Regions from separate parts of the Homo sapiens genome. Here regions 2, 3 and 4 are each linked to region 1. The links come from fine-mapping of genetic effects on gene expression. A gene starts in region 1. Each other region holds a variant in brackets. All regions are shown on one strand. Distances are from middle to middle.

What was found.
Region 2: its variant is fine-mapped to the expression of FUT8 in whole blood (TOPMed, PIP above 0.99).
Region 3: its variant is fine-mapped to the expression of FUT8 in whole blood (INTERVAL, PIP above 0.99).
Region 4: its variant is fine-mapped to the expression of FUT8 in whole blood (TOPMed, PIP above 0.99).

Annotation. Positions count from the first base shown.
Region 1 is chr14:65,408,165-65,416,270 of GRCh38, forward strand. It overlaps FUT8 (fucosyltransferase 8), which reads left to right and starts at 4,566. Exons shown (of 11, transcript NM_001371533.1): 1 at 4,566-5,050. It overlaps FUT8-AS1 (FUT8 antisense RNA 1), which reads right to left and starts at 4,453. Exons shown (of 1, transcript NR_024334.1): 1 at 2,428-4,453. RefSeq lists enhancers at 3,745-4,064, 5,307-5,871 and silencers at 4,605-4,764, 5,065-5,184, 5,195-5,384.
Region 2 is chr14:65,249,081-65,257,186 of GRCh38, forward strand. No RefSeq gene overlaps it. Among named protein-coding and RNA genes, the nearest start is that of LINC02324, 31 kb to the left of the region's middle. RefSeq lists an enhancer at 6,393-6,894. The variant T/C (reference allele first, on the strand shown) is at 4,258.
Region 3 is chr14:65,430,372-65,438,477 of GRCh38, forward strand. The region is part of intron 1 of FUT8 (fucosyltransferase 8); the gene reads left to right. Among named protein-coding and RNA genes, the nearest start is that of FUT8, 22 kb to the left of the region's middle. The variant C/G (reference allele first, on the strand shown) is at 3,344.
Region 4 is chr14:65,924,384-65,932,489 of GRCh38, forward strand. No RefSeq gene overlaps it. Among named protein-coding and RNA genes, the nearest start is that of LINC02290, 180 kb to the right of the region's middle. RefSeq lists an enhancer at 4,615-5,152. The variant G/A (reference allele first, on the strand shown) is at 3,727.

The DNA.
Region 1 (8,106 bases):
GAGGCAGGCTGCTCTACCTTGTCCTTTTTTTTGGAAGTTAAGCCGAGAGAGGCTTTACCGATACTTTCAAGATAATACTGGTCTTGAGTCTGGAGAAGAGTAAACACTGTAAGGACTTACGCTGGCCATGAACTGTTCTACCTGGAATTGACACATACCACTTCTGCCCACAACCCACTACAGACTGGTGGCTATAGCTAGTCAGTCACATGGTCCAGCCCAACTGCAAGGGGAGGAGGGTATCTGGGGGTGGGTGTGGAAAAATATAATCTTTTTGTATGTCTGGAAAGAGAGAGTAAGCATGATAAATCTCCTACCATATTAGGGAACCCATTTATTGGCTAATTGAGTTGCCTTTCTGTAGTTGGAGTTTTGGGTGGTTACCTAAAGAATTGGCAGATGAAAACAAAAATAAACAGCCCTATTAATAAGGAAGGACGGGAGTGAATGTTCAATTAGAAATCAATAGTGTGAACTATATGCTGCTTTATCCCAGTGGAGAAGACAGAAATTTCAGCCATGGAGGCAAGTCATAGGGAGGGATAGTCTGGCTAGTTTCATCAGTCTTTAAATCAATCACTTCATTTACTCTTGTAATGGGAAAGATTTGCTCTGGCTTTTTAATGAGTAGGTATAGAGTTTGTTTAAGGAGCTGGCTCAAAAGTGACTTAAAACACATTGAATTTGAAAATATAGATTCTTAGCTACTCAGGAGGCTGAGGCAAGAGTACAGCTTGAGGCCAGGAGTTCAAGACGAGCCTTGGCAACATTCTGCGACCTTGTCTCTAAAAAATAAAAATGAAAATATAGACTTTTTTTCCCTATATTTCATTTTTGTAGTTATTGTCAATGGTGTGTCAAGTTGGCTAGATTTATAGTTTTAGAACTGACGAACAACTAAAACTTACCTAGTCCAACCCTTTTATTTTACAAATGAGAAAACTGAGGCCCAGATGGGTAAAATGATTATCTCAAGGTCACCCCTTCTTGCTCTTGGCAATAACAATGCTGCCCTTTGGATGACTTCCTGGAAAATCGGATCCTGTAAGTGAAATGTAGCTAGAGCAACAATTATAAAACAACGAGAACAATTAACAATTATTCAGAATGCTTCCATGGCTGACAGTCAGTTGGTACACGTTGGTAGAGATAGAAAAATTTCTAAACTATTTGGTAAGTAGCTTATGCTAAGCCTTCTGAGTGCCTCAACCCCTTGCTGGAACTCCACAGATCTCCCCACCGTAATAACAGGATCCACCTCAAAGGTTTGATTTGAGAATTAAATGGTGGAGGTAAAGAGTTTTGCATGAGGCCTGGTGCTCAGCACTATTACACTTTGGCTATTATTTTTATTACAGTCATAATAAAATGGTAGTAAATTTCAAACCAGTTTCTACATGAATGTTCACAACTTAGGAAATGTGATAGCATTCACGTTCATTAACTTTGATCTAGCTAATCTCTCAATAAAATGGCCACTCATGTACTCACTTTAACTTTCATTTTGATCTTTTCCATAGTCTAAGGGTTGACTCCTTCTTGCCCCGGGACACCCGAGTCCCCATAGCTCTAGCTGATGGTTAAGAATTTGACCGAGGCTATATACAAGAAAACAATGCACTGACAAGGCCCTGTTACTTGTTGTATAACAGATCATAACGATTGTTCTGTCTAATCTTTTGTTGAACAGAACTTGTCTTTAACTTTTGGGATAAGCAAAGATGGGTCCAAAACCTAGTTTGGTGAGGGAGGGGTGGAGTAAGAGGTGGAGTACCTGTACTTACTTAAGCAACTATTACAAACTGGCAGTGATGAGCAGCAGAGGCAAGCAGTTGGGAGAAGAGAATGAGAGAGCGCAGCAACAGGGTGGGACCTGCAGCTTGTGGAAAAATGCTTTTGACACAGATACTTTCTGATGGCCAGTGATGTTTAGAACCTTTTGGGGGATTCCTTCTCTCTCAGAATTTAACCTGGCAAGAGAACGACTGAGTTCTAGGAATTTTCTTGTCTGGAGAGAGTAAAATAAATGTATTTTTTAAAAGCTGGGACTGTTATCCACACTGAGAAGAGGCAGGGTATAAAATTCCCTTTCATAAGTGAATTTCCTGGAAATTCATGATTGGCTTGGAACTTAATGTGTAAAGACTTGTTCTCAAATATCAGTTGTTTGACAGAGACCTCCAGTTTTGGGATGGCAGCTAAATCCTGAGCCTGCCTTGGAAAGGGTTTTGATAATAATGTTCCATCACAGGTGGAGAAGCACATTGATTCAACAAAGCAGACTTCAAAACCACTGAAGAATTAGTTTCTGAGTGTATTCAAGAGATACCAAAGTTATTTGTTATTTTAACGTATATTATACTGTTCTATACAAATGCACCAAATCCTGGGCAAAACATTCCTAGGACAGGTTTTTTTTTTTTTTTTTTTCAGTTGGAAGGAGGTAGGGAAAATAAGTGCTTTAATTCCTAGGATTTTGGAAGTAAAAATGGAACACCAGACAAAAATGGAATTTTTAGGCAAATGTAAAGCTTTGTACTTGGGTATCTCAAAGTATTATACAGTGTAAACTATCATGATTATTAACCAACTAGAAGTAGTTCTTTTTTTTAAATTTTATTTTTAATTTTAGACATGAGGGTCTTGCTATGTTGCCCAGGCTGAAGTGGCTACTGACAGGCACGATGTGGCACTGCAGCCTGGAACTCTTGGGCTTAAGTGATCCTTCCTGCTTCTTCTATCTTAAAAAAAAAAAGTTACGCTTGCTTGTTAAAATATTTTTAAAATGCTGTGTTTAAACTAAGAAGTAAATATCCACCCCACCTCTGACTTCTAAAAATTATCTAAAGTATGACTGGTAAGATTTTTACCTTTAATCCCACATAAGTCTAAAATTTGTGTTCATTTCCAACAACCAAAGTGTGTCACTTTTATACCAGAATTTTGTCCTGCTTATACGTTTAGTACAGAAATCTCATGGGAGAGAGCATCCATGCATTTACAAATTGTTATTGAATTATTTTATTGAATGATGACACCCAAACTGAGCTAGAACATAATTCTGGCTCTGCTAGTACATCTTCTGTGTGATCTTGGACAAGTCACTCTACTTTCCTTTCAATTTTCTTTTCTCACAGGGAGATAATCATAAAAACGACTGTAAAGTACAGCACTTCATAGAGTGCTTTTTGTTTAAAGAGCTGACAATAAATACGAGTCTCAAGGTCTAGGAAAGCCTCCCTCACAACCTGAGCTGCTTGAGGACAAGGGATTTTCTTTTGAATCAGCAGTACCTTATTTGTGTATCTGTGATAGAGTTCCTGGTACATAAGAAGGTCTCAATAAATATGTGAATTTATGAATATTAGGCAGATTGCAACCTTGACAGGCCACTGCCTCTTAAATCTCCTTTCTGTGATCTTTTAATATTTAACATCTAAAAGGCCGCCGCTACTTGCTTTGGGATAAGTATCCCCGGTATGTACTTTAAAATGCCCAAGCCTAGAGAAATGATTCTTGTCTTAAGGGCACCATTTCGCTCTCCCACCGTAAAGCGCCCCAGGCTTGGGATCTGGGTCCCAAGGCTACAGGGAAGAGTTTGGAACGGGAAGCTCATCTTCCGGCCCTCTGATTGGCCGGCTCGCACTCCACTCACGCGGCGCGCAGCTCTGATTGGCCTCGGCGGCACCCCTCGTCCCGCGACTACTTTGTGTGCTGGGGCGGCGCGCTCCGGTCCTCCCGCTCAGCTGGCGGTCTGGGCTGCTCTGGGGCAGCCCTTCGGTCCACTGCTCTGCATCGCGGGCGCCGGGAATTTTCCGAGTCCGAGCGGGTAGGACGCATCCTAGGGCAAAGCCTCTCCCCTCTCCCCGTGCTGTTCTCTTTCCCGTACTAAATAAACTTCCGCCTCAGAGGGGCTGTCGCAGCCGCGGGTCGGGAGAGGCCGGGCATCGAACTCAGGCCCTCGTGGGGGGGGTCTTTCTCTTCGAGTGAATGTGGAAACAGCTCTTACAAGATAAAGTAGGGCTTCGCTGAGTCTCCTGGGGGAGCGATGCCATTGTAGGATCGCGCTGGAAGCAGCAGTCAAGCGGCCAAATGCGGGCTGCAGGGGCTGAGCAGCAGCAGCGCGCACCCCTAAAAGTAGCAAGGAGCCAGCTTCAAAACCTCTAGTGCGGGTGCCCCCTAGGGCCGCCGACTGAGCTGGCACGGGCCGGTCCATTCCCGGCGCTGTAGGGAGCACAGCATTCTCTGGAGGCGAGTCTCCTCCCGGGATCCAGGATCCGCTCGCGCCCCGCTCAGCCTCCGGCCTTCAGGCGGTAGAGGGCGGCCTACGCCTGTGTGCGAGCCGGAGCCGGCGTGCGCAGCCGCTGCCCTGCTGGAACTGTGCCGTCCCGCTGTGGCCCGCGGCTCTGCTAGGCGGTGGATGCTGCTGCTACGCTCTCCACCGGCGCAGCGAGGAAGGGGGCGGGGAGAATCCCTGGCACATGCCAGGGTCGCCGTAGGTGGCAGCGGCCGGCGCATGCGCGCCCTCTCCCAGAAGCCAGGAACGCCGAGGGGCGCGCTCCCCCATTCGCGCGCGCACGCCGGCGCTGGCCGAGGCTTCCCCGCCTGCGCTCGTTGTCAGAGCCGCTCCGGCGCGTGCGCGCGTTATCTCCGGCCGACCCGAGCAGCCGGTTCCCTCCTCTCCAGGCCCCCTCCCCATCCCACCCCCGCCGCCTGGCCCCAGCCGACCCGTCCCTTCGTCTCCCCGCGGAATGGGGCCGGCACTGCTCAGGGTCGCGCGCCCTGGACCCAGCTCGCTCTCGGTCTCGCGCTGTCAGCGACTGCCCGGCTCGCGCCGCCTCGCGCTCTGCCTCAGTCAGTGGCGCCGAAGGCTCCGTTAAGCGGCGGCGGCGGTTCCTGTTTCCGTTTCTTCCTCTCCGTTCGGTCGGGAGTAGCATCCTCCACTCAGCCACCCTTCCCACTCCCCCATCGTGGGGCAGCTGCGGCTGAGGGCTGTGGCTTTGGCAGCTGCGACGGGGAGCGGCGGAGACCGCCTCTGCTCCCGCCTGGGGTAAGGGGGCGTTTTGGGAGCCGGGCCCCGCGCGCCTCGGGGTCTTGGGCTGGGCTGCGCGCGGGATCTGAGGAGGCTCCGCGGCTGTCCCTGCTCGTTCACCCGGGCCTGTTGCTGCAACTGCTGCCGGTTAACCAGCGGCTCTCGGAAAAGTGGGGAGGGAGCCCCCGGGACGCTCTGGCGGATGCCTTGGCGCAGCCCCGGGGGCGCGGGCAGAGGGTGAGGGGCGCCCGCCTCTCCAGCCGGGACGCGGAGCTGCGCCGCTGCTGCCCTCGGCGTCGCGCATCCTTGCCTAGGGCAGGGGCCAAAGCCTAGGGAAGGAGAAGGGTTGGGGGCGGGGGTGGGAGGTGTCCGTCGTTTCCCCTCCACACCTACCTTCCCTTCGTCAGCAGCTCGGTCCCTGGAGTCGCGGTTTGTGGGGAGGAAGATGCCCGTGCGTTATGGGCTCTTTCTGAGTGCTGCTCGGGCTAGAAAGCAGGGAGTGGACCCTCACAAAGATCCGCGAGGGACTGATGCAGGGCAGTTAAAGGCTTGAGTGCAGCTGTACTCCCTTTTGATGTGCAAATGACGAGCTGGCGGCTTTTGAGTATCAACTTATTTGGGAAGGTTAAATGAGTCCATATTTATCAGTTCTAGGAGGTTTGTCCTGCAGGATTGAGTGGGTTGTCGGGTGCAGCACCTGTTCTTTCTTCACAGTGGGGATTGCAATCTTCAGAGACGCAGTGTATTTCTTAAGTGGCAGTGTCATGCTTAGGGTTTGTCCCGGATGAGCTTTTATTTTAGCATTTTGCCATATAATATATAGATTGAGGCCTTGGTTAAAGGCACGGACAGGTGGTGTTTTTTTCCTTCCTATGTTTTAATTATTCACAGTTTATTTAAACCCACTCAGGAAGGTGGACCCAGAAAAGCCAAATTCTGTAGTACATAACCCCAAATTTCAAGGTTTTGCGGAACAAATTCAACACAAGTTTTGTGTCAGTTTAGAGTTAAACGCATCTCAAGTAACTGACTTAACTGGCTTGCCTCTATGAAAACTGTAGGCAGGTTTCATTATAGATTTTTTTTTTCTTGTTATTCCGGCGGTTAGGTGCATGTTTATTTTCTTGATTAAATTTACATTCTATGTTTTATGACTAATTCTTTAAATAGGTGCATCATATAGAAAGTATTTTAGGAGAGAAATTATTATTTAAGCACTACAGTATATCAGATATATGAGAAATAATGGAGTTGTAGTCTCTGCTCTTTAAAATAACTGTAAAAACATCTTAAAACCCTATGCCAAATAATAAGGCCCTGTACCTTGCTGTCCTTGTGAAATCTGGTATGTGTATAGAAAATCTTAATTACTTGATTTGTAAATACTACAGTAGTATTGAAAAGGTGGGAATTCAAGCATTTGTAATTGTGATTTCACAGGTTTAGTGTGTAAAAAATGCAGGGAGTTAGAGATGAATAGGCTATAAGACACGTACAAAGGTAGTTCCAAGACATGGATTTTCTTTTTGCTGCCTTATAAATTGAGAATTCTATTTGAATTCAAGAGCTGAACAGCTGGAATGAAACTTGCATAGATTGCAGAAACAGATGCAAAAATGTATCTTTGGTCAAGTTGTGAGTTAACTTGAAGAGTGTCTTGTGTAATAGGATAGTGATTCAAAATAATTTCCATAAAGTACGGCCTTATATAGGTTATATTTTGAGGATATTTTTGAATTTAAAAAGTCACCTGAAGTTGTTTTCCTACAAATCAGTTCTGTTTAAGATGTATGGAATCGAAAAAAACAAAACAAAACTAATTCTGATTACATCCTGCATTGTTTTGTTGCAAATTCTTACCAGTTATTTTTACGCAATTGGAGTGTCCTTAAAAGTGGTGAATCTTAAAATTTGCCAGTGGATTGGAAAAAACTGTTAACTTATTATTTTTAAAAATGCTGTTATATTAGTACATTGGTCTGGAGGGGGAGCTAGTGCCAAAGCAAAGTATAGCTTAATAGCTGTTTGAACTTTTAAAACACCCAAAACCAGATTTTTATGACCAAAAGAAACATAAATTTTTAATTAAAAGAGTAGGAAATTGATGTGGGCATATATATGTACATAGTTATTTGTGGAGTGAATATATTGTGTATTACAAATTAGTTTAAAAAAGTCTTTTCATGCGCTGCAATAATGGAAAGCTAAATGCTTAAAGATTTATTGGATTTCTCACTTAAAAATCTCTAAAATGTACCCCCAAACTTAGAGTATGTTATAGTATTTTCTTAACCTTCTTGTCCTGTTCATCAGAATCTAAGGCATGTATTCTTGACCCATTGTACATGTTGTGTGTTCTTAAATTTTGTTTTTATAATAGCTACAATCCTAAAATTTCAAAAACGAAGCTTCAAGTAGAATCTTATATGGGCGAAGGTATTAATTGTGTGGTAAGCTAGGTATTTATCAAAAGTAGATATAATTCCTTTTTTTTTTTTTTTTAAAGTAGAGATAATTCCAATAAAAAAATGGACCTTTTAGACATCTGGAGAACAATATCCCCAGGTCACTTAACCCTTATCTCCTGCAGTATAATGCAGTGCGTCCAGCTGATCTACCAAATTGAATGTGTGCCTTTGAATACGAAGCAGTTGTTTTGTGGCCTGTGGCATTTCATTTAGGTTTCTAAGCTGTAATAAATTAGTATGTTAATTTACTTCTTTCCATTCACATATTCTTTAAATCCAAGCCTAGAAACTGATAGTTATATGTATATTAAAATCATTGGAATATTGGTTTTTTTGCAGATAGTGTTTGGGCTGTTTATTATCCATAGCTCTTCATTATGTAAATAGAATCTCAATGCTGATAAAGTAAATAGATTCTTCCATTTCATTAATGGTTATTTTTGATTTATGATAAACTGCATTTAATAAATCTCTTGATTTAGTTAAATGGTGGATACATCATTTCATATTATAGCAAATTGATAAATATAAAAGAAAGTTTTACAATCATAAGAGTAAATATTTAAAAAAACTTGAATAAGTTACTTTACTAAACATAAAATTAAG
Region 2 (8,106 bases), 160 kb before region 1:
CACGCCTCTAGTCCTAGCTATTTGGAGGGCTGAGGCAGAAGAATCACTTGAACCTGGGAGATGAAGGTTGTAGTGAGCCGAAATGGTGCCACTGTACTCCAACCTGGGCAACAGAGCAAGACTCCATCTCACATAAATAAATAAATAAATAAATAAATAAATAAATAAATAAATAAATAAAATATATAAATAAATTTTTAAAAATTACAGTCCTTATTTCTGTAACCAGTCACATAGTTGTAGCTTCTTTCACTATCCATTAGGTATTCCCTTTGCCTTCAGCAAGCACCTCAGATGGCATGGTTCTTTACCTTTGAAGTGACCCAAACCTTCATTCCTGAAGGGTCTGAGCCAGTCATAGTCCTGCCCGGATTGGATTGTTGTAGTTTTCCATTGACCTTAATCACAGGACATGCTTTAAGGGATCACTTGTGTTCCAGACAAACTCTTCCTTTTCTCCACTGTGGAGTAGCAGTCCAATTTCCCCTAGGTAGTCAGGATTAATTATGCCAGTCGGCACAGTAACTCCCTTCTTTGCCTGTTGATTTGGAGGCATAAGGAGTCCAAAGTGGCCAGGTGGCAGTCTCAACTTCCAGTTCAATAGAATCATTGTTGTGTCTCCTGGTGGAAACATTCCTCCCTTCAGAACTAAGACCACTAAGCCAGCAGAGCATAAGGTCATGAGAATAGGAAGCAAAAATTTTGCTAGTGGGGCACTAGTGATAATAGTGGGTGTTTCTACTCTATGATTCCTGGAGCTGTGAATCTTGGCTATGGGAAGAAGAACACCATACATTGGACTCTGGTTCAGAGCATATATACAGCCTTCTGGATAACCTTGCTGCAGACCTACAAAGTATTGCCGCTGAGCTGGCACTGTAACTGAGTCTTCAAAAGGCCATTCCATTGTACTTTCAAACCAGCTGCTTCAGGATGGTGTGGAACACGGTAAGATCAGTGAATTTCATGAGCATGGGCCCACTGCTGCACTTCTTTTGCTGTGAAGTGAGCTCCCTGATTGAAAGCAATGCTGTGTGTAATACTATGACGGAGGATAAGACATTCCATAAGTCTGCGGATAGTAGTTTTGGCAGAAGCATTGCATGCAGGGAAGGCAAATCCATATTCAAAGTGTCTATTCCAATAAGAACAAAATGCTGCCCTTTCCATAATGGAAGCCATCCAATGTAATCAGCCTGCCTCCGGGTAGCTGTTTGTTTAGCTGGAGGAACAGTGGCATATCAGGGACTCAGTGTCGGTCTCTGATGCTGGCAAATTGAACACTCAGTGGTGGCTGTAGCCAAATCAGCCTTGGTAAGTGCAGTCCATGTTGTTGAGCCTATGCATAACCTTCATCTCTGCCACCATGGCCATTTTATCCATGAGCCCATTGGGTGATGATGGGATGATTGTGGAAAGAGGCTGACTGGTGTCCATAGAATTAGTCATCCTATCTATTTGATTATTAAAATCCTCCTCTGTGGCAGGGTGCAGCAGCTCACACCTGTAATTCCAGCATTTTGGGAGGTCAAGGTGGGTGGATTGCTTGAGGCCAGGAGTTTTGAGTCCAGCTGGGCAACATGGTGAAACCCTGTCTCTACTGAAAATACAAAAAAAATTAGCCGGGTGTGGTGGTGTGTGCCTGTCATCCCAGCTACTCAGGAGGCTGAGATGGGAGAATCACCTGAGCCTGGGGAAGTCGAGGCTGCAGTAAACCTAAACCAAAATCATGCCACTGCACTCCAGCCTGGGCAATCGGAGTGACACCCTGTCTCAGAAAAATAAATAAATGAAAGGGGCCAGGCGCAGTGGCTCACACCTGTAATCCCAGCACTTTGGGAGGCTGAGGCGGGTGGATCACCTGAGGTCGGGAGTTTGAGACCAGCCTGACCAACATGGAGAAACCCTGTCTCTACTAAAAAAAAAAAATACAAAATTAGCTGGGTGTGGTTGTTCATGCCTGTAGTCCCAGCTATTTGAGAGGCTGAGGCAGAAGAATTGCTTGAACCCGGGAGGTGGAGGTTGCAGTGAGCTGAGACCGCGCCATTGCAGTCCAGCATGGGCAGCAAGAGCGAAAATCCATCTCAAAAATAAATAAATAAATAAATAAAAATAAAATCCTCCTCTGCTGAGGTCACTGTTTGGTGAGCATTCACATGGGAAACAAATATCTTCACATCTTTTGCCCAATCAGATAGGTCTATCCACATACTCTTCCCCAAATTTATTTGTCATCACTTTTGCAATTATGTTCCTTACAAGTCTGAGGCCATCCAGGAAACCACTGGCTACTATGAATCAGTATATAACCACATGTCTGGCCATTTCTCCTTCCAAATACATTGTGCAACCAAGTGCTCTGCCCAAAATTCTGTCCTAAGGACAGTGGTAAAGGGAATTCTTCCTAATGGAAGAGGGAAGAGATCGCTGCCCTGGCTGAGATGACTGCATACTCCAAGTGAACTGCCCACTCCAAGAGGTAGAAGCAAAGAGGAGACACAGGAGACTTCTAAGATCTCTCTTATTGCCCTTGAAGGCTGCAGATCCTGCTCCTTTGCCCCTGGGACCCTGGAGAGCCCCTGTCTTGAGGACCCCCAATTGCAGGTGCCTGTTTTGCTCTGGGATGCTCCTGCCTGGGTTGTAGTGCTAGAGGTGGCCCACGTGAGGCAGCAGCCTCCTGGGTCCCTGGTGCCCACTGAGCTTTGCTGGAGCAGTGGGAACTGAAGGATGATCATGTTGCAGACCCAACCAATGGTTCTGGTCCGTGGCCTGTTCGGAACCGGGCAGCACAGCAGGAGGTGAGTGGCGGGTGAGGTCCACCTCTTGTCAAATCAGCAGTGGCATTAGATTCTCATAGGAGCATGAACCCTATTGTGAACTGTGTAGGCGAGGGATCTAGGTTGTGTGCTCCTTATGAGAGTCTAATGCCTGATGATCTGAGGTGGAACAGTTTCATCCCGAAACCATCCCTCCACCCCTACCTTCGTCCTTCCATGGAAAAATTGTCTTTCACAAAACTGGTCCCTGCTGCTAAAATGATTGGGGACTACTGCTTTAGGGATGTCCCAGAAAGGGGCTGTTATGATGCAGCTGTCCACTTTTGGGTGGTGCCTGCACATTGTGCAGAACTATTACCAGGCCTGATCTCTTCTTCTGTGAACTGATCATTGGGTATTCCCAACAAGGTCATAGGTGCAGGCTGGGAGAGAGGAGGCAGTGAAGCAGAAGTAGGAATTATGGGCATTTGGGCCACTTCCTCATGTAATTTACTTGTTCTTCAGGACTTGCTTGAGCCTGACCACCTATATACCATTTCCATTTGATGATGGAGTACTGCTGTGCACATCCAACTTCATGGCTTAGTGGGTCAGATAGCACCCAGTTCATGATAGGCAGCTCAGGTCACATGGTAACTTGGTGGCCCATGGTCAAACATTCAGTCTCTACTGAGGCCCAGTAGCAGACCAAGAGCTGTCTCAAAAGGAGTGTAGTTATTTGTGAATGATGGCAGGAACTTGCTCCAAAATCCTGAAGGCCTCCACTGTGATTCACCCATGAGGGCCTGCCAAAGGCTCCAGACAGATCCCTATCTGTCACTGATACCTCAAGCACCATTGGATCTGATGGGTCATATGGCCCAAGTGACAGAGCAGCTTGCATAGCAGCCTGGACCTGTTACAGAGCCTTCTCCTTGTCTAGACTCCACTCAAAACCAGCAGCTTTTCAAGTCACTTGGTAAATGGGGCAGAGTTACACACCCAAATGAGGAACATGTTGCCTCCAAAATCCAAAGAGGCCTACTAGGCATTGCACCTCTTTTTTGGTTGTAGGAGGGGCCAGATGCTACAAGGTGTCCTTCACCTTAGAAGAGATATCTTGACATGCCCCATACCACTGGACCCCTAGAAGTCTCATTAAATGAAACCACATCCGAAATAAAACCACAACAGCAATACAACCACATCTGGTACAGCAGCTGCAGTGGGAATCATCACCTGGTTAAGTTCATAGTAATCCACTGTCATTCTCCATCTGTCTTTTGCACAGGCCAAATGGGCATGTGGAATAAGAATGTGGTGGGAATTGCCACCCCTGCCTCCTTGATGATGGCCCTACTCTCTGCAGTCCCTCCAGGAATTAAGTATTGCTTTTGGCTTACTCTTTTCCTAGGTAGAGGCAGTTCTAGTGTCTTCCACTTGGCCTTTCCCACCAGAATAGCCCTTCCTCCACAAGTCAGGGAACCAATGTGGGGATCTG[T/C]CAGCTGCTGAGTGTATCCATTTCAATTATGCATTCTGGAACTGGGGAAATAATCACAGGATGTCTTTGGGGATCCACTGGACCCACCGTGAGATGGACCTGGGAAAAAAAATCTTGAGCTGCATTCACATTAGTGATTCATAAACTGATAAGCATGAGAGCCTTTCAGGTTATAAGAAAGGGATACAAGGACGCAAAAGAGGGAATTCAACATAAATGAAGAAGGAACCTAACTCAGCCATGGGGCGAGAAGGTGTCTGTGAACTCACAGTGAGCAAGGCTGTATTTGGGAGATGGAAGTATTTTGAAGTGTTCTTTGAGGTTGACTCTTTAGCTTCCCTTCACATCAACCATGGTAATTCCATTCCCCTTGGGAGGGACTAGCTAAAGAATGGGCATGTATCCAATTCTGGCTAATGGTACAAAAAGAAGATTCTACAGGAGACTGCTGGTAAAAGCTTCCATGCTTCTGAAAAAACACGAAAGCTTTCTTTTTCTGCGTGTTATTGTGTTTGGTGCAGACGTCGTATTACCACAAAGGGAGCCAGCTGAAGGAAAAAGCCAATGTCCTGCGGAGAGAAAAGCAGAGAAATGGAGGCTGCTTGGCTCCTTGAGGACACCTTGAGCCACTCATCGTACCACACCTGGAACCCACTACTTCTAGACTAACTATTATATGAGATAATACATTTCCTTACATGTTTGAATCTGTGTTTTCTATTACTTATGGCTAAGGCATCCTAACCAACAGAGAGTATGGGACAGATTTCCTGCATTAACTGGTAGGAGCTTAGAGCTAAGATTTGGGTACTAAGGAGGTGTAACTGGTATCTTCACAGGCTGGGGGGACCAGGACAAAGGGGTCATTCATTCTTCTCTGCATGTCAGGGGAGACTCTACAACCCAGCTGAGGTAGGAAAATTGGATTTCTCTGTCTTTTGTTTGTATTTCTGTTTTGTTATTTATTTATGTATTGAGACAGAGTCTTGCTCTGTCACCCAGGCTGGAGTGCAATGTCACAATCTCGGCTCACTGCAACCTCTGCCTCCCAGGTTCAAGAAATTCTCCTGCCTCGCCAGGCACAGTGGCTCATGCCTGTAATCCCAACACTTTGGGAGGTCAAGGTGGGTGGATCACAAGGTCAGGATTTCAAGACCAGCCTGGGCAATATAGTGAAACCCCATGTCTACTAAAAATACAAAAAGATTAGCTGGCCGTGGGGGTGCCTGTAATCCCAGCTACTCGGGAGGCTGAGGCAGGAGAATGGCGTGAACCCAGGAGGCGGAGGTTGCAGTGAGCCAAGATCGTGCCACTGCACTCCAGCCTGGGCGACAGAACGATACTGTGTCTCAAAAAAAAAAAAAAAAAAAAAAAAGAAAAAGAAAAAAAAAAAAGAAATTCTCCTGCCTCAGCCTCCTGAGTACCTGGGAGTATAGATGTGCACCACCACACCTGGCTTTTTTTTGTATTTTTAGTAGTGACAGTGTTTTGCCATGTTGGCCAGGCTGGTGTCCAACTCCTGACCTCAGGTGATCCACCCGCCATGGCCTCCCAAAGTGCTGGGCTTACACGCATGAGCCGCTGCGCCCAGCCTCCGTTTTTTAAATCAAAATGAATCTAACCTTGAGCCCCCAGTCCTGTTCATTGGGCAGATTATTAATCTGTCATTCTGGAAGTGCAATCTCTCCCCTGAAATATTGTGCCTACCTGGGCAAAAGTGTGGGGGCCTCCCAACCAGTCATCAGCCGGTGATCTGCCCTAAGTTTTCCTTTGATGCCTCACATCCCTTCTGGTTTGTTGATTTTGCTGTTGCTGAGTCATACATGGGGCCCAGGAAATCTTTGGTGAGACTGGAGACTCAATGCCCAAGGCCTAAAATTTCCCCGAGATCTGGATGTCTCCTGGGGCTCTGGAAAGGGCTCCATTCTCAGAGTGAGACAGGTTTTCTGTTTTGTTTTGGTTTCTATCTTTCTGGTCTCTGAGCACTCTCCTCTGTCTTTCCTTGTCCTTCAAGGCTCCCCTCTCCCTGTCCCCCTCCCGCCTATCTCCCTCTGGGTATCTGCATCATCTCATCAGGAGCCAGGACTTTTACCCAAGGCATGAAGATCTGTTATCTTCAAACAGCTCTGCTTTCTGTCCTGCAAGGATTCGTAAGGCAAGAAAAACCAAAAAAGCTGACTTGTAGTACCTGCTTGGGAAAAGACGGCAATGGAAAAACACAGTAAACAAATTAATATCTTAATTATCTTGTCACAGGTGCCTCAGCGGAGCACTGTGACAGAGGAGCACAATAGGAGGGCTGACTCCAGGCTGAGTGGCAGCGAGCCAGCCAGCCAATGAGAGTGGGACAGGGAGAAAGAAGGTGGGAGCTGAGCAGTGCTGGGGAAGCTTTCTTGCAAACTTGCAAAACCTGCCTGGCAGCCTGAGAGCCTTGTGACAGGGATGCCTCTTTCCTATCTCAAGTCCTGAGGTGTCCTTAAACTTAGTTTTTCATTTCCAGAAGCCTTCTCGCTGTACCTTGTGGTCACACGTGGAGGGCTACGATACCTCCTCATCTCACCAGAGAGTGGGAAGTTTCAAATAAGAACATGCGGGAAAGATCTTTGAGTTGCTCTGCAGGAAGGAGGCCCTGGCAGCCCACCCCAGCCTCCTCCGTGGAGCTCACCCTCCATTCAGCCCTGGTGGTCCCCTGCAGCTTGTATCTGCCACAGCCCTGCAGGTGGCACTGGGACTCCTGGGCTTCTGGACTTGGCTCAGAGGTAAACAAGAACAGCAGATGTTCATGCAGCTTGGATTTAGATAGTATCTTCCCACCCAGAGCTGAAAAGACCTTTGAAATCATTGAGACCAACTCCCTACTCTTACAGTTAAGGGCCCAGAGGATAAGAGAAGCCAGGAGACTTGGCTAAGGTGACCTGAAGCTATAAGGAGGGACAACCAAGGCTCCTTATCTCTCTCAGCCCTCCCTTATCACCCTGATCTCTGGGTGCTGCCCCTTGATCCTGGTTGCCTCATGTGGTGCTTTTGAATGATTTACCTGTCCTTCTTGCCACTTGTGGGGCCAGCACGCCTTGCCCTTCCTGCAGATGCCTGCTGTCTCCTGGATGTTGGGCTGTCAGATGATTAACCCAAGGACAATGAAGGGTGTGCAGAGTCCCCAGACCTCAGATCTTGAGCTGGGCTCTTGCTCAGTTTTTCATCGGCATCCCGACAGCATTTGTTAAGGGGAATGGGACTGTGGGTTACTCAGAAGCCCTGGGCATTTTCCAGTTCACAGGCACCTTCTGAGCATGCTCATTTGTGACTTTCTGACCAAAACATTTCAGCCTGGAGATAATCTTCAAGTAAACAAGTATGGGGTCTTTTGTCTCCCATTGTTTTGATTGGTTTAATAACTAATCAATCATATATTCTGAGGCTGCCTTAAAATCCTCAACCATGCTGCAGGTCATTACATGTGTATAGCACTTTATAATTCAGAATACATTATTTCATCAGCTTTATGAGATTCTTTGACCATACCCATTTCACAGGTATGAAAACTGTGAGTCAGCAAGGTTAGATGACCTGCCGTTTTAGAAGGAAGAATCAGAGCCACAACTAAGATGATAGCCTGGATTCTAGTGCAGTGATCTTGTCCCTGGCCCTCCACTAGGTACAGGCTGGCTACATGGTCTTCAGTGGAGTGGGGCAGTGGAGATAGTGAGGGGAGCTGCCCACCATGGAAAAAGTGCTGATAAAACACTTGGGACTTGGCTGGGCGCGGTGGCTCACGCCTGTAATCCCAGCACTTTGGGAAGCCAAGGCAGGCCGATCATGAGGTCAGCAGATCAAGACCATCCTGGTCAA
Region 3 (8,106 bases), 22 kb after region 1:
AAGTCCCACTGAATTTTTAATACATATAAAATACTGAAATATGAGTTGTGTAATTGGAAAAATGTCAATGTAAATGAAAAGAGACACTTTTTCTGTTCTGAAGCTTCAAAATATTAAAGATCATCGTTCATATTTTCCTGGGGAATTTTTATTTTTAGTCATAATAGTAAATGAGCAGCCGTCAGAAGATATAGCCATTTCTAGGTTTAGAATTCCTTTTCTTTATATAGTTCTCTTGAATACTTGTCTTTAAGAAAATAGACATTAAGGATTTCTTGTGTAATCAAATACTACTTTGATATTTGTACAGAGCATGAGAGCAAGACTAGAACCACATTAAAGCAGGAAGAATAATTAAAAGTTTTGTAACATAGCAAAGAATAGATGGGGTAATTTACAATGGAAAAGTAGACGTACAGAACATCATTAGATGGGATATAGAAAGCTCTCTTTAAAAAAGGGATATCAGATCAAATAGACTGAAGAATTTGTATCCTACAAGTTAAGTAAAAAATGAGATGAGCAATTAATGAGAAAATGTGCTCTAAAATACTTGGTTGCATTGATTGGCAATTCTTTTCCACTTCCTATAGGGGCTATTTCAGACCTTTTCTACTAATTTTTTTTTTTTTTTTTTTTTTGAGACAGAGTTTCACTCTTGCTGCCCAGGCTGGAGTGCAGTGGCGCGATCTCGGCTCACTGCAACCTCCTGCTCCCGGGTTCAAATGATTCTCCTGCCTCAGCCTCCGGAGTAGCTGGGATTACAGGCATGCGCCACTATACCCGGCTAATTTTTTTTTTTTTTTTTAAAGTAGAGACAAGGTTTCTCCATGTTGGTCAGGCTGGTCTCAAACTCCCAACCTCAGGTGATCCACCCTCCTCGGCCTCCCAAAGTGTGGGATTACAGGTGTGAGCCACTGCGCCGGCCTTTTTTTTTTTTTTTTTTTTCTCTCAAATGAGACAGGGTCATGCTCTGTTGCCCAGACTAAGGGGAGTGGCGCAATCCCAGCTCACTGCAGCCTCAACCTCCTGGGCTCAGGTGATCCTCCTGCCTTAGCCTCTGGAGTAGCTGGGACTACAGGCATGCGTCACCATACCCGGCTTTTTTTTGGTATTTTTTTTGTAGAGGCTGGGTTTTGCCACATTGCCTGGGCTGGTCTTGAACACCTGGCCTCAAGTGATTTGCCTGCCTCAGCCTCTTAAAGTGTTGGGATTACAGGCGTGAGCCACCACTCTACTTCTTCCTAGGGCCTGATTCCAGTGTACTGCTCTTAGACTTTGTAGGTTCACTTTTTTTTTTTTTTTAATGTAAGATCAAGACTATCCAACAGAAGCTTCTTCAGCTTTGCTTTTCTCTCTCTCTAAATTGTGTAAGTTCTGTCTCCCATTTGGTGTCAGGGATATGCAATATGCCCTTTAGGTTTTCATGGCTACCTCTTTTATCCCTTCTACTGTTAGAATGTATAGGATCATTAATTAACTCTTTTATCATTTTTATTTTAATCTTCCCTAGCAACAATTTAATGGCTTAAACAAAAACCTTTCCTTATTATTATTATTTTTAAATACTGTGCAACAGGCCAAAGGAAAAAAAACAATTTATGTCTGTTGTTTCAATTTGGTTACCTTATTTTTTACTAAAACTGTTCTTTCTGTTGTTACCAGTGACCTTCTGAATTGCCAAATGGGGATTCTTCAGTCTTGTTGCTTCAGATTTAACACTGTGAACCACTTTTCCTCCTCCCTTCTCCTTATAACTTTGCTGTCCTCTTGGCTCATTTACAAAGTCAACTTGTTTCTCAAGTATTTGCCTTACATGTTTTTCATTCTCTAGATTCTTTTTCTTGAAATGTTACCTATTCTTTTGGCTTTAGTGAGAATCTCTTCCAGGTGACCCCTATACTGTAAGTTCCTGAACGTCAGTTTCCAGCTGGAGATTGTCATCTAATTGTCATGCTGTCATGCTTAACCCACTCAAATTTGAATTTTCTTTTCTTTTAAAATGTATTTTTTCTACTTTCCTTTTTTTTTTTTTTAAATTATTGGCTTTTCCTTCCCATTATCCAAACTTGAATTGTGAATCATCTTTGTATTCCCCGTCAGATTCATTCGCTTGTCAAACTATCAGAGGCCTGTGAACCAGAGCAATTGCATCTTAAACAGGAGTTGGGTAAAATGAGGCTAAAACCTACTGGGCTGCATTCCCAGACAGTTAAGACATTCTAAGTCACAGGATGAGATAGGAGGTCGGCACAAAATACAGGTCATAAAGACCTTGCTAATAAAACAGGTTGCAGTTAAGGAGCCAGCCAAAACCCACCAAAACCAAAATGGCAATGAGAGTGACCTCTGGTCATCCTCACTACTACACTTCCATTAGCACCGCTCTATGACAGCTTACAAATGCCATGGCAATGTCAGGAAGTTACCCTGTATGGTCTAAAAATGGGAGACATAAATAATCCACCCCTTATTTACCGTATCATCAAGAAATAGCCATAAAAATAGGCAACCAACAGCCCCCGAGACTGCTCTGCCCATGGAGTAGCCATTCTTTTATGCCTTTACTTTAATAAACTTGCTTTCACTTTGCACTGTGGACTCGCCCTGAATTCTTTCTTGTGTGAAATCCAAAAACCCTCTCTTGGGATCTGGATTAGGACCCCTTTCCTGTAACATGTTTCTCTGTCCTGTAACCTATTTCTGGCAACCACAGAAGAGACTATAGTGCAGAAACCCTGACCCAACGGCTACCTTTGGGTAAGTGTTGGGATCCTGTAACAAAACTGCGAATTCTATCACTACAGTGTTTATCTCATTCATCTGCTTTTTTCTGTTTCATTTTTTTTTGATAACAGTTTAGGTTCTCATTACCACTAACATATAAATATATAATTATAATTCAGTAATTGCTATGATGAAGGGTGAGGTGGCAGAGGAAGTTCTAGTAGGATATGGTACATAGTGATGATTAGCTTAGCATCAAAAACAAGTAGGGGCATTCCAGGAAGACAAACTGAAGAAAGGCTTATTAGGAGTGTGCTATGTGTTTGTTGTCAACTTGTGAGACTTCTTCTTTAATCCTTACTGCAGTTGTGTGCTTTTCGTATTTGCATATGCTATTGCCTTTCTTCAGATATTGATTAAAATTTGTGAAAGAGCATGCAATGGCAGAATGACACAAAGTAACATATATCTTTATTACCTAGCTTTAAGTGAGTAGAGTGGTAAAATGTAAGGTAATGAAAAGTGAGTACTGCCTGCACTGAAGATTTAAAACCTGATATAATTTGCATTAAAAGCTGTCTTGAAGGTTTTTCACTATTTGTAATGTAAATCTTCA[C/G]TAGGCAGCTGTTCTCAGTCTACTGTTGTTATATGTGGCTTTATCTTTTATTTCTACCTCTCTTCTGTCTCTTCTCTCTCTCTCTCTCTCTCTCTCTCTCTCTCGCTGTGTTGCCCAGGTTGGAACACAGTGGCTATTCACAGATGTGATCATAGAGCACTGCAACCTGAAACTCCTGGCCTCAAGCCGTCCTCCTGCTTCAGCCTCCTCAGTAGCTAGGGCTAAAAATGTGTGCCACCAGGCTCAGCTATTTCTACCTCTTTCAAATGTGTGTGATTGCCCTACAGTGGGGTTGGGTAATATCTTGATATTAGTAGCCACTAATACTGAAAATAACTGAAGGCCACAGCAAGTAAAGAGAGAATTTACTATTTTTGTTTCCTTAGAGAAGCCAAATATTTTGTGATTTTAAAATGGGAAGCATTAAAAACAACAATTCTAAAATGCCTTATACAGAAAGGTGATTTATTGGCTATGTAAATAGGAAGAATAGAGATGGAGAAGTCCAGGAACAACCAGATCCAGGAACTTAGATGCTGTCTTCAGAGTATTCTAGCTTCATTTTATTTTTTCTCCTGTTGGCCTCATTTTCTGCTTATGTTAGAAAGCTTCTTTCATGGCAAGGATGCATGGCCTCAGACAGCTGAGAACTTAGTTCCCTAGGATGGCCTCTGACAGGCTTATCTCTGGGCTAATCACTGTGGGGAATTGTCGTTGACATTAACATCAGAACCACACAAATCGGGGGTAGTGTCAGTTCCCCAGAGGATAGATGTTGTTAACCAGAGAAATAGGGAAAAGGAATTTGAAGTAGCAAAAACAATGTAAAGCCATTTCAGAGGCAGAAGAAAGAAAAGGCAATAGTAGACACAGTGAAAGAGAAATACTTACATAGGAGAGAGAAGCAGGGAAAGGGAAGGGAACTAGAATTTAAGAATTCAAAACTAAGAATTTACTGTGTGGTAAGCCTGTGTTAAGCGTTTTACATTTTATCTTTACAGCTCAGTGGAGGCAGCTGTATTATCTCCAGAGGATAACCATTTGTAGATCTGGTAGTGAAAAGCCCCCCCACCTTTTTTTTCTTTTATCCCAATTTGGCATATTTCCTTTATTTTTTATACAACTTTTTTCATTTTTAAATTATGCATTAATACATTAAAATCCACACTGCGATACACAGTTCTATGGATTTTGGCAAATGCATATAATATGTATCTACCCTCATAATCAAGACACAGAACTCCTGCTGCCCATTTGTAGTTAACCTCTCCCCCTAAGTTCATCGCCCTGGAAAACACTGATCTATTCTCTATGGCTACCATTTTACTTTTCCGAATGTCATACACAGTTGTCACTCCTTATCTGAGGGAAATTAGTTCCAAAACCCCTTCAGATACTAAAATTCACAGATGCTCAGGTCCCTTATGTAAAATGACCTAGTGTTTACATATACACACACATCCTCCTGGTACTCCAGTCATCGCTAAATATAATATACAATGTAAATACTATATACATCGTTGTTATGTTGTTTATATGTATTATTTTTGTTGTATTTTTTTTACTATAATATTTTCTATCCATATTGGTTGAATTCTCAGATATGGAACTAGTGGATATGGAGGGCCAACTGTAAGTGACATTGTAGTTATATAGACTTTTGGATCAGCCTCTTTTACTTAGAAAATTCATTGAGATTCATTTATGTTGCGTGTATCAATAGTTCGTTCCTTTACATTGCTGAGTAGTAATCTGTGGTATGAATGTACCATGGTTAGTTTATCCATTTGTCTGTTGAAAGACGTTTAGCTTATTGCTGGTTTTTGGCAATTATGAATAAAACTGCTATAGACATTCATGTATAGCTTTGTGTGTGATCATAAGTTTTCATTTCACTTGGGTAAATACCTAGGAGCAGATTGCTGGATGATATGGTAAGCATATGTGTAATTTTGTATGAAACTGCCAAATTGTTTTCCAAAGTGGTTGTACCATTTTGCATTTCCACCAACGATGTTTGAGAGTTCCAGTTGCTCTACATCCTTACTAGCACTTGGTAGTATCTGTTCCTTTTTCTTTCTTTTTTTTTTTTTTAATTTTAGCTCTTATAATAGGTGTATAGTTGTATATCATGTGGTTTTAGTTTGCATTTTCTTACAATTGACTTTTGGTGTATTTTTATTTTCGTGTGCTTTAAGATATCTTCCCTTTTTTTTTTTTTTTTTTCTTTAAAAGACAGAGTCTTGCCGTGTTACCCAGACTGGAGTGCAGTGGTGTGATCATCACTCACTGTAGCCTCAGACGACTCTGAACTCAAGCAGTTCTTCTACCTCAGTCTCCCGAGAAGCTGGGACCACAGGTGTGTGCCACCATGTCTGGCTAGTTTTTAATTTTTTTGTAGAGACAAGGTCTCACTGTGTTGCCCAGGCTGTAAAATATCTTTCTTGAGCTGGTCCTGATGGCACAAGTGTGTAATCCCAGCTACTCAGGAGGCTGAGGCAGGAGAATCGCTTGAGCCCAGAAGTTTGAGATCACCCTGGGCAACATAGCAAGACCCTGTCTCAAAACAACAACAACAAAAACTTTTCTTTAACATTCCGAGAATGCTTATTGGCTTTAAAAAACAATGATAGTGGCCAGGCACAGTGGCTCACACGTGTAATCCCAGCACTTTGGGAGGCTGAGGCAGGCAGATCACGAGGTCAGGAGATCGAGACCATCCTGGCTAACATGGTGAAACCCTGTCTCTACTAAAAATACAAAAAATTAGCCAGGTGTGGTGGTGGGCGCCTGTAGTCCAGCTACTGGGGAGGCTGAGGCAGGAGAATGGTGTGAACCTGGGAGGTGGAGCTGGCAGTGAGCCAAGATCGTGCCACTGCACTCCAGCCTGGGCGACAGAGCGAGACTCCCTCTCAAAAAAAAAAAAAAAAAAGTTTTTTTCCAAAATAGAATAGTAAATGGCCCTGACAAGGTCTTTGACAAGCATTGGGGTTGCACACTCAACTGTATCACACAATTCCAGGGGACATCATTCACATAAAATTTTTTTTTCTTTTTTCCTACTGGAGTTGTGCAGTGTAGCAGTCTGGGCTATATATTTACAGTTATTATCTAGGATTATCAGTGATTAGGTTCCATGGAAAATTTGAGTACTACCAAATGATGCATTTAAAAAGCATTTTTCAATGTTTCTCTGAAATGAAATTTTTGTCCAGGAGCTAGTTCTGAAGAAATGCCCTACAGGCAGTATGTCTAATGGATCAGACCTGGGAGACATAAAGGCCTATTTCAGGTACTCAACTCTGCCATTTACTGCATGAGTGACCTTGGGCATCTTGTCTAGCTTCTTTGAGTTCATTCTTTATCAGCAAAACAGGATTGATAATCTCTCCTTTTTATAGATGTGACAAGAATTATAAATAATGCATGTAAAATATCTGATGTAGAGCAGACCTCTTCAAGTTGCAACTGCTTTTACTTCTGTTTATTAGCACTTAGTACTGATTAGCCACAGCTTTTTATCAAACAAAAGCTTAGGGTATCAGCAAAGCAGAAAGAAAAGAATTTGAAAAACAATTGAAAGCATTTACTACCTAACATTTAAAAAAATACTGAAGTAGAATTAGGAAAGAAATAAGAATTTATTGGATTAAATGTTAGCTGTTTAGTATTGTTTTTATTTTGTATTTAATAGGGAGAGAATAGAGGGCTATACTATTATATTTTCTGTACTTGGGACCTCCAAAGGTCTTAATTTGGTCTTATCACCACTAACACCACCACTGCCATCTCCATGTCATGCTTGTGTTAAAGAAAGACTTTGAAATACGTCACCTAATGTTTAGGGTCGTAGAAATGCAATTTACTGTTTTGGGACTAGAGTACATGAATTCATATTACTTGACATCATTAGTTCTTCCCAGTAAAATGAGAATATTTGAGGTCCCAGAGTATTTTATAAGGTTTTAAAAACTTCATAATTTCTTAATGTTTTTTTGTTATTACCCATAGTGATTACAATAAAATCCTTAAAACAGCAAGGAAGGAGAACCAAGGAGATTAGATGTGCTTTATGGATGCAAGGAGAGAGGTTTAGCAAGCAATGGAGTAGGGAGTAAAGAAGAGGAGTTTAGCCTGAGTTTCTGGATCTAGGAAGTAATGTAGAAGTCTTAACTGTAGAAGAGTCTTTATAGTGATAGTGATTTTTTTTCTTTGATTTTAAATTATTTCTGCTTTGGTGTTTTCTGTTTGTTGGACATGTTGGTTTCATACCTCTGTATAGTAAAGAGGTTTTAAAACTTTGACCCAAACTATTTTGGCTCACACTTTTACTTCTCATATGGGCTTTTATAATAATATGGAGAGAGGGGATAAGAAGTTGTCTAAAGTAAAATCAAAAGTTGTTTGTCCATTTCCTCTCTCAAGTAAGAATATATCAAGAATATTTCAGTCTAGCCATTTTGTAGCTTGAGATTAGAGAAGGAAAGTTTACATTCACATGTTACCTTCATCTGCCTTTCTTGTCTTTGACCTGTTACAACAGAAATTAGGCAGTTTTTTTTTTCCCCTCACATATTCATTCTCTGCTTCTCTCAAGTTAATGAAACCTAGATAGAGGGCCCAATTGCCACTTGCTGAAAGAACAAATTTCTGAAGTTCTCTTGTAGCAAGTTACTACCTTGTGACTAAATTCTGGTCAGTTAGATGTCAGTAGAAGTATTTGGTATTTCCCAGAAGTCTATTTAAAGGAAGAGCTTTACCAT
Region 4 (8,106 bases), 520 kb after region 1:
ATATATATATATAGGTTTCAATACTATCCATGGTTTCAGTCATCCAGACTAAAACTTAGGCACTTCAGACCCCCAGGATATGGGGGTCTTGGAACATATACGCCATGGATAAGGGGGATTACTGTAGAGGAGAATCTGACACCTACTTCCTTTTTTTTTTTTTAACCTACTTTTTTTTGTTTTTGTTTTTGAGACGGAGTCTTGCTCTGTCGCCCAGGCTGGAGTGCAGTGGCACAATCTCGGCTCACTGCAAACTCCACCTCCCGGATTCAAGTGATTCTCCTGCTTCAGCCTCCCGAGTAGCTGGGACTACAGGTGCACGCCACCATGCCTGGCTAATTTTTTGTGTTTTTCATAGAGATGGTGTTTCACCGTGATAGCCAGGATGGTCTCGATCTCCTGACCTCGTGATCCGCCCACCTCAGCCTCCCAAAGTGCTGGGATTATAGGCATGAGCCACTGCACCCAGCCACCTACTTCCTTTGATAGTGTTACCGGGGGTCCTTGCTCACAGAGCTCCCAAGATGGTGGCGAGCATCTTCCAAGATGGTGGCGGGCCACTTCCAAGATGGTGGCAAGCCTTGTGTTCTCTGACTTGGGGTTCTTGGCCTCATGGATTCCAAGGAATGGAATCTTGGGCCATGCAGTGAGTGTTATAGCTCTATTAGAAGCCGTGGGTCACGGAAGAGAACCGTGGAAGCCAGTGACTAGTGTTCAGCTCGATTAGGATGGACCCGGGCACTTAGCCGTGCAGGGACAATAGCAAGCCTTTAGCCCTATCAGGAGCGGCAATGGGCACCTCGCTGAATCAGGAGCACAGCGGACACCCTGCCGGATCCGGAGGGTTGGGAGTCAGCGGCAGGTCTGTGATGGTGGCAAACAGCAGTGGTGGACAGCGAGTGAACTCGAGCTGTAACAAACATGGACCAGAAGAGTGCAGTTGCAAGATTTAATAGCGTGAAATAGAGTGAAAACAGAGCTCCCATAAAAGAGGAGGGGACCCAAAGGGGGTTGCCGTTGCCAGCTCAAATGCCTGGGTTTATATCCCGATCCTTGTCCCTTCCACTGTGCTCTCGGGCAGCAGATGATTGGCTATTTCTTTACCTCCTGTTTTTGCCTAATTATCATTTTAGTGAGCTCTCCTTACTATCTGATTGGTTGCGTGTGAGCTAAGTTGCAAGCCCCGTGTTTAAAGGTGTAAGTGGTCACCCTCCCAGCTAGGCTTAGGGATTCTTAGTTGGCCTAGGAAATCCAGCTAGTCCTGTCTCTCAATAGGGCTATAACACTGGTCTTATTTGCACAGTCTCATTAAGCTGGTAGAATGGGGGGTCACAAACCCAGCAGGTCTGATTTGAAGGATTTCTCAGCAAAGCATTCACCATGCCTCAGTTTCTCCTTTATAAGATGGTAATGCCACTTCTCACCACTCATCACTTTCCATACATACTGGAAGCACTATAAAGAAGAGGCTTATAATATCACTCTTACCAACTAAGAAGCTTAAAATCTCTTTCAAGATGCTTTTCATCTGCTTTCCTTTTCTCAACATATTCTTGGAAGAGATAAACTTCTCTCTCACTTAACTTCTGTGTTTTCTAGAACTAATGAACTAATTTCCATTCATTCCAAAGACATCTTTGTATATACAAGATATGGGTCATTGGAAGGGAGGAAGAAACTATAACTTAGAGAAAGCTGTTCCCTATTACTTCCTAAATATGAAGATTTATTAGTTAAGTAATGCTAGCTGTTGTAACAGACGAATTCCCAAATATCAGTGGTTTAACACAACGGAAGTTTATTTTTTGCTCACACCTGGTGTTTCATGAGAGGCTTTCCATGATCAGTCTTGCATACACAAAAGAACCTTCTTTAGTGTCTCTACCTGTTAGATCTTCTAATAGGCCAGCACATTGGATAAGAGAGAATGAAGGCTGGAGCAGAAGGTTTATGCAGGTGAGGCTGGAAGTAAGGCACAGCACCTCTTCCTTGCTGAACACACTTTCTGCTGTCCCACTACATGGGGACTTGCTGCGATAGGAGGTATTAAAAATTGTTCTAGGCAGATAGGAAAAGCGGTCCTTGGAAAGTTTTCATCTCTTTTAAAGCAGCTCCAGAAACATTTCTTGTCTAGCAGGAAAGCCCTGGCTCTTAGAGCTGGGCAGGCAATCTTTCATATGCAAATGTTGGCCATTAGAAACTGGGTCCACCCCAACAAGAGGATTCCTGCTGCCTGCCTCCTTCTTCCCCTTGCCCCACATGTTCCTGGCAACATGGCTGCCCCCACATATCCCCACGTGTGTAGAACATTATGGCGCCCTGTATTTGCATATTAAAAGGCTAGGGTGGGAGAGTCAGTTTTTTCAAGGGCTACGTGAATGACATGCCTGGTCAAACCAATCCTCTGAGCCCTATGCAAATCAGATACTGCTTCCTCCAGCCTCTCCATATACCTGGCTGGTTTCTGCGTACTTGGGGTCCCCTCTCTCGCTTTGGAGCCGCCCCCTACCCCCCCCATCTCTGTACAGGGGAGCTGCTGCTTTCTTTCTTTTCCCTTCTTTCTTACCTATTAAACTCTCCAGTCCTTAAAACGACTCCACGTGTGTCCGTGTTATTTTATCTAATTCGACTTGAGACGAAGAACCCTGGTGTTCTTCCACTCATGGAGTTGCATCATTGCTATGGCAAAGTCTGGCTTTCATGCACAGGCTTCCTCTTTTGCCAGCACAAGGGCTGGGAGGGCTTGTAAAACCCCAACAACCTCAATGTTTGTTGCTCATTTAGACCAGAACTTCAAGTCTTAGCTGGGTGGAGTTAGTAAGATCCACAATTACTGATGAAGCTCCTTATCTCCACAAGAGAATCCTGGCTAAAGAGGATGCAGGGTCTCCGGCCAAGCACAGAGACCCCATCCTAGATTTCATTTCTCTGTTGATAAAGTGATCATTAGGATCTGTGAGTTTGGAGAGACACCTTCTTCAGTGAGCCACAATAATTCCTCCTGAAAACTGATCAGTGACATCTTTGCCAGCCAGAAGTACCTTCTGTAAAACTGAGGGAAAGGAGCCCCAAGTAACCCTCAGCTCTTTGAGTCCTCAAAGACCATCCCCCTACAGGACCTTGGCCCCAGATATTTCATATCAGATCAGCTTTTCCTCCCCGCAGGATTCTCTCTAATCATCTCTCACCACCCAAGGCAGTGTCAGCTCAGGCAAAGCAAACTAATTTTAATCTAAGGACAAGTAAAAATATAATTAAGAAGGTAAATCTATTTCCCAAATAGCATACAGTTCTCTGTTGACTATGCATTTTTTAAAGTATCTGTAAAGACAAAAGACATTCATTCATCAATACAGATACAGCTGCTCATTTGTTTGTGGAGTTTGCAATTAAATACAATTGCTTGTTTTTAAGAACCCAGCTTCTGCTGCCCAGTGAGATCTATTTTGGAGGGCAAGAGAGGAAAGAAGAATTCTAACTCAAACAGAGGGAGTTTGCAGAGGGAAACAAAACCCTGCGCAGGCACAGAATTCCTTTTAAATAGGAATGTTCATGAGAAAGACCTAGGATCTAAATTTTCCCCCAGGGTGGGGCTGCTTTTCGCTTGATGTTATCTCAGCACCTTCACTTCACTGATGAGGCCAACAGATCAAGATGAATAAGCTTTCTCAGTTGCCGTGTTATTTAAACCCACAAGCAGGCCCCTGCCCCTTCCTGGAAGGCTGC[G/A]GTGTAACACCTTAGCTGTCGCCTGGCGCGCTGCTGTATAAACACACCAGGCTCCAGATCCTTTATTTCAGCAGGTGATTCACAATGAAGGAGCGGGAGGCTGGGTCCCCAGAGCACGGAGTCCTTGCCTGTCCACCCCCCTTTTCTGGAGGGCGGGAAGCTCTTTAGTATGCCCTACTTAGCTCCAAATACAAAGAAGGCCACTCTGTTTCCAAGAAGCCATTCAGTCATAATAGATATGGTTAGAATGATAGCCCAGAGGCTGTGGGTTAGGAAAACACATTTATTAGAGAAGGATCCCGTTCACAATAATTAAGTGACACAAATGAATGCAAGTTAATGAAATCTCAGTGGGATTGAATGTGCTCAATCACGGCCCCCACCCCCTGCCCTGGGCAGCAGTAGTAGAGCATGAAGACTCAGGAAGCACAATGGGACCCCATTCTTTGGTCCTGAAATTCTCCCCATCTCCTCCCAATGCTGATCTGAGAGGTAGACCTCTCAAACTCTCCTGGAAGGTGAATCCTGAAGGAGAGGGGTGCAAGGACCTGGATTGCTGCATTCTGTCCCCTTCTGGCGTGATTCTTGGATGGTCTTTCTACACTTCAGCCTCAGGGTTTGCCAGATCCAGAATCCTCCCCAGGATATTTTGAAGAACACGAAGTGATTTTTAAAAAAGGCATTGAAACGAAAATAAAAAGCACTGAGGATGACTGCAATAATACACAATTTTATCATCCATCCATCCTTCCATCCATCCATTCAACAAAAACTTATTGGATATCTCCCTATATCAGGCACTGGGGTTATAGCAGTCAATGATAATAATAATGATGGTGATGATAACAGCAATAAGAATAATAGAACTAACAGTTGCTCCTGATGTTTTCCAGGCACTGTTCTAAGTGCTTCACCTACATGCCACTCATTCATCCTCACAACAACCCAATACTACCCAGGACAAGTAAACAAGGCACAGACCCTTTTGGGAAAGAGCATGTAGCCCACAGGTGAGGCAAGACCTCTGCAGGGAGAAAGCCAGGAGCTGAGCGCATGTGGGAGCCCTAGCCCTCTGGAAGGCTTTGAAGGCCTCTGGAGGGAGTGGCACCAGCTGAGCTGAGGCAGGAGGAGGAATGGCCTGGAGCCCAGGAGAGTGCTTAGAGGGGACTGCAGAGACCATAGTCCCTCTGGCTGGAGTTTAGGGTAGTGGTAAGAGATGCTGCGGGGTGGAGAAGAGGCTGGGAAAGACTTCCTAAAGGAGGCGACAAGTGACCTAAATGATGTGTAGAGTTGGCCAGGCAAAGGGTTTGGGGCTGGGGAGGCTGAGAGCCCTGGGGGGTCGAAAGGGAGCTGGACCACAGGGTGCTCAGCCAATGGGTCCCATCAGGTGGTGGGGTCAAGAGAAGTGGCTGGGGGGTGGGAACACGCCCACCACACAGCTTTGAAGCTGCACGCAGGAAGCTGGATGTGATTCTGGAGAGCACTCTGGCTGCAGCGTGGATCATAAATCCCAGAGGGCTAAAGGGGCAGCGATGGTGGGGATGCGACTCCTAGGAGTCTGGGTGACTGTTGAGGGCCAGGGTGGTGGGAAGGAGGCAAAAGGGAGATGATGTGTGGGATAACCAGAAAGCAGGGCGGGGAGAGAATGGGGTCCAGGGCGACTTCTAGGAACCCAACAGATCTGCAGAGCGGTGGCAGGCACACCATTGTGAGGTCTGCAGCCTTCCTCTCTGAGTTCAGGTCACACTTCCCTGACTTCCCTTTACTTACAGGGGGAGGGCTTCTTCACCAAAGGGAAATGACTGCTGCCGTGGGCTGCTCTGCTCCTTCCCTGCTCCTTCCCTGCTGTCCCCCAACTCCAACTATACCCCACTGCCCACCTTGGTCCTTGGAGTCCAGCACATACCATTGGTAGGTGTCCACATAACTCTATAGCCACAGGGGGGCCACTTTCAGATATACATTCTACATGGCCAGGCTGGGGCTATGGCCCAGGTGGCTTCCTTAGGGCCCATTTGGCCGGGCTCAGTGTCTGAGCTTTATGCGCATGCTTCCAGATCTTCTCTGACATCAAGCCATGTCATCTGTGGGCTTTTCCTTCTATAAGAGATTCTTAATCTGGGGTCACAGGTTCCTTCAGGATCTAGGGAGTCCAGGGTCACCCTGGGATTATATCTAGAGTTTTATGTGAATGTGAGGGGTTTTTGGGGAGAATGTTTATAGCTATCAGATGCTCTGAGGGATTTGTGATCCCCAAAAACTTAAGACCCATTGTTTTGGGCTCTGATTTTCAAGGTTAAAATTTTCCTGGCTAATTTTCCTTCTTATTCTCACCATCACCTCCCAATGCTAAAGCCCCTGGATAGCGTTCACCTCATCTCTTCACAGTATTTCCAGGAATTCAAAATCAGCATTTGCCTTTTAAAGCCTGTCTCCATTTTGCCCTGAAAAGCCTCCACTATTCTGCATTATGTATTTTTAAATGCTTGGGTGGGCACAGTGGCTCATGACTGTAATCCCAGCATTTTGGGAGGTCCAGGTAGGGGAATCACTTGAGCTGAAGAGTTCGAGACCAACTTGGGCAAAATGCAAGACCCTGTCTTTATCAAAACTACAAAAAATTAGCCAGGTCTGGTGGCATGCACCTGGGGACCCGACTACTCGGGACACTGAGGTCAGAGGATTGCTTAAGTCTGAAAGGTGGAGGTTGCAGTGAGCCAAGATCATGCCACAACACCCTAGCCTGGTGACAGAGTTGAGACCTCATCTCAAAAATAAATAAATACTCATTCTGCATATTTATATTTTATTGTATTAATAGAAAAAATTCTTATTATGGGTCCTTCTTCCTGCAGATCTCCATCACTTTTGAAGAGAGGCAAGCTTGCCATGCTCTTGCCTGATTTCAGGCCTTCTGACTTGGTAGACCCTTGGGAATGACAGCGGCTAACATTGGCTGGGAGCTTGTTAAAAGTCAGGCATTATGCTAAGAACTTGTATTATCTCATTTAAAACCCTTAACAATGCCATGAAATAGACATTACTGTTATCCCAATTTTAAAATAAGAAAACGGGGCATAGAGAGTATAGCAGGAAGGACGTGGCCGACCCAGAACTGGAACTCAGGTGGCAGAGTTCCAGAGCCTCATGTTAGCCTCCCACCAATCCACTGATTCACTTCATCTGTTCATTATTGGAGACGGTCACTGTCTAGCTTGCTCCCTAGCCTGGAATCAATAACTTGGAGTCAACATCATCTGAAGTCAGATCCTAACCCCTCTCACTGATGTCCCTTTTGGACAAGAGTTGTTCCACAGAGGAAGTGGTAGCTTTTGAATGATAGGAATACTGTAGCCAACATCAGTATCTCTTGTCCAGAGGTGATTTGAATGGCCAAGGAAGGTTCTGCTACTTCTCAAATAGTTTCCTAACCTAGAATTTCCTAGTATCTGAAATTCCAGCATTAGAGATTAACTCCTTTGGATTGGTTTTGTCCTACCCCACCCCACCCCACCCCAACATACACTTGAGTCTCTTAAAAAGTAGGAATCACCTGGGCATATGAATCATGGAGGCCCGTCCACTATGGCATTAGCCCTGAACGATTTTGAAATTAGAGGATGTTCAAAGAGGGAGGCAAATATGTAAAAGGATACTATTGAAGGTGTTGCCAAGGACCAGCCCTGCCTCTGCACCATATTGGAAGGAGTTTCATGGACTAGGCTCATCACGGGATCTTCTGATACTAACTCCTTAGTGCCTTGGCTTGTGCTTCTGCAGCTGAGAGAGACTGAGGAAGGACCAGCCAGGACTGTCCAAGGCTCTTGGGGAGGAAGTTCTCTTGCCTTTCTCCTTTGTGAGGTTGGGGAGCAAGTGACCTGTCAGCTCTGGGAAGTCAGCCAGTGGCCTGACATTACCTGACATTAGAAAGATCAGCTCTGGCTTCTGAGAAAGGTGATCCTATGGTTATCACAGGGGCAACATTACCCCCGGGGGGTTGCAATGCAAGTGCATGTAACTAATGGTGTAAGGACAGATAGAACCCCAAGACACTTCCCCTGGGCACCAGTGTCAAACAGCAGCTTCTCCTTTTTTCCTGTGGGAGCATCTGGACTTTCATATGTAAGAGGCTTTAGTATGGGCTGCATTGTGTCCTTCCCCACCACCACCAGATTCATATGTCCTTATAATAGAAGGAAATGTGGGCCGGGTATGGTGGCTCATGCCTGTAATCCCAGAACTTTGGGAGGCCGAGGCGGGCAGATCACTTGACGTCAGGAGTTTGAGACTAGCCTGGTCAACATGGTGAAGCCTCATCTCTACAAAAAATACAAAAATTAGCCGGGTGTGGTTGCGCATACCTATAGTCCCAGCTACTCA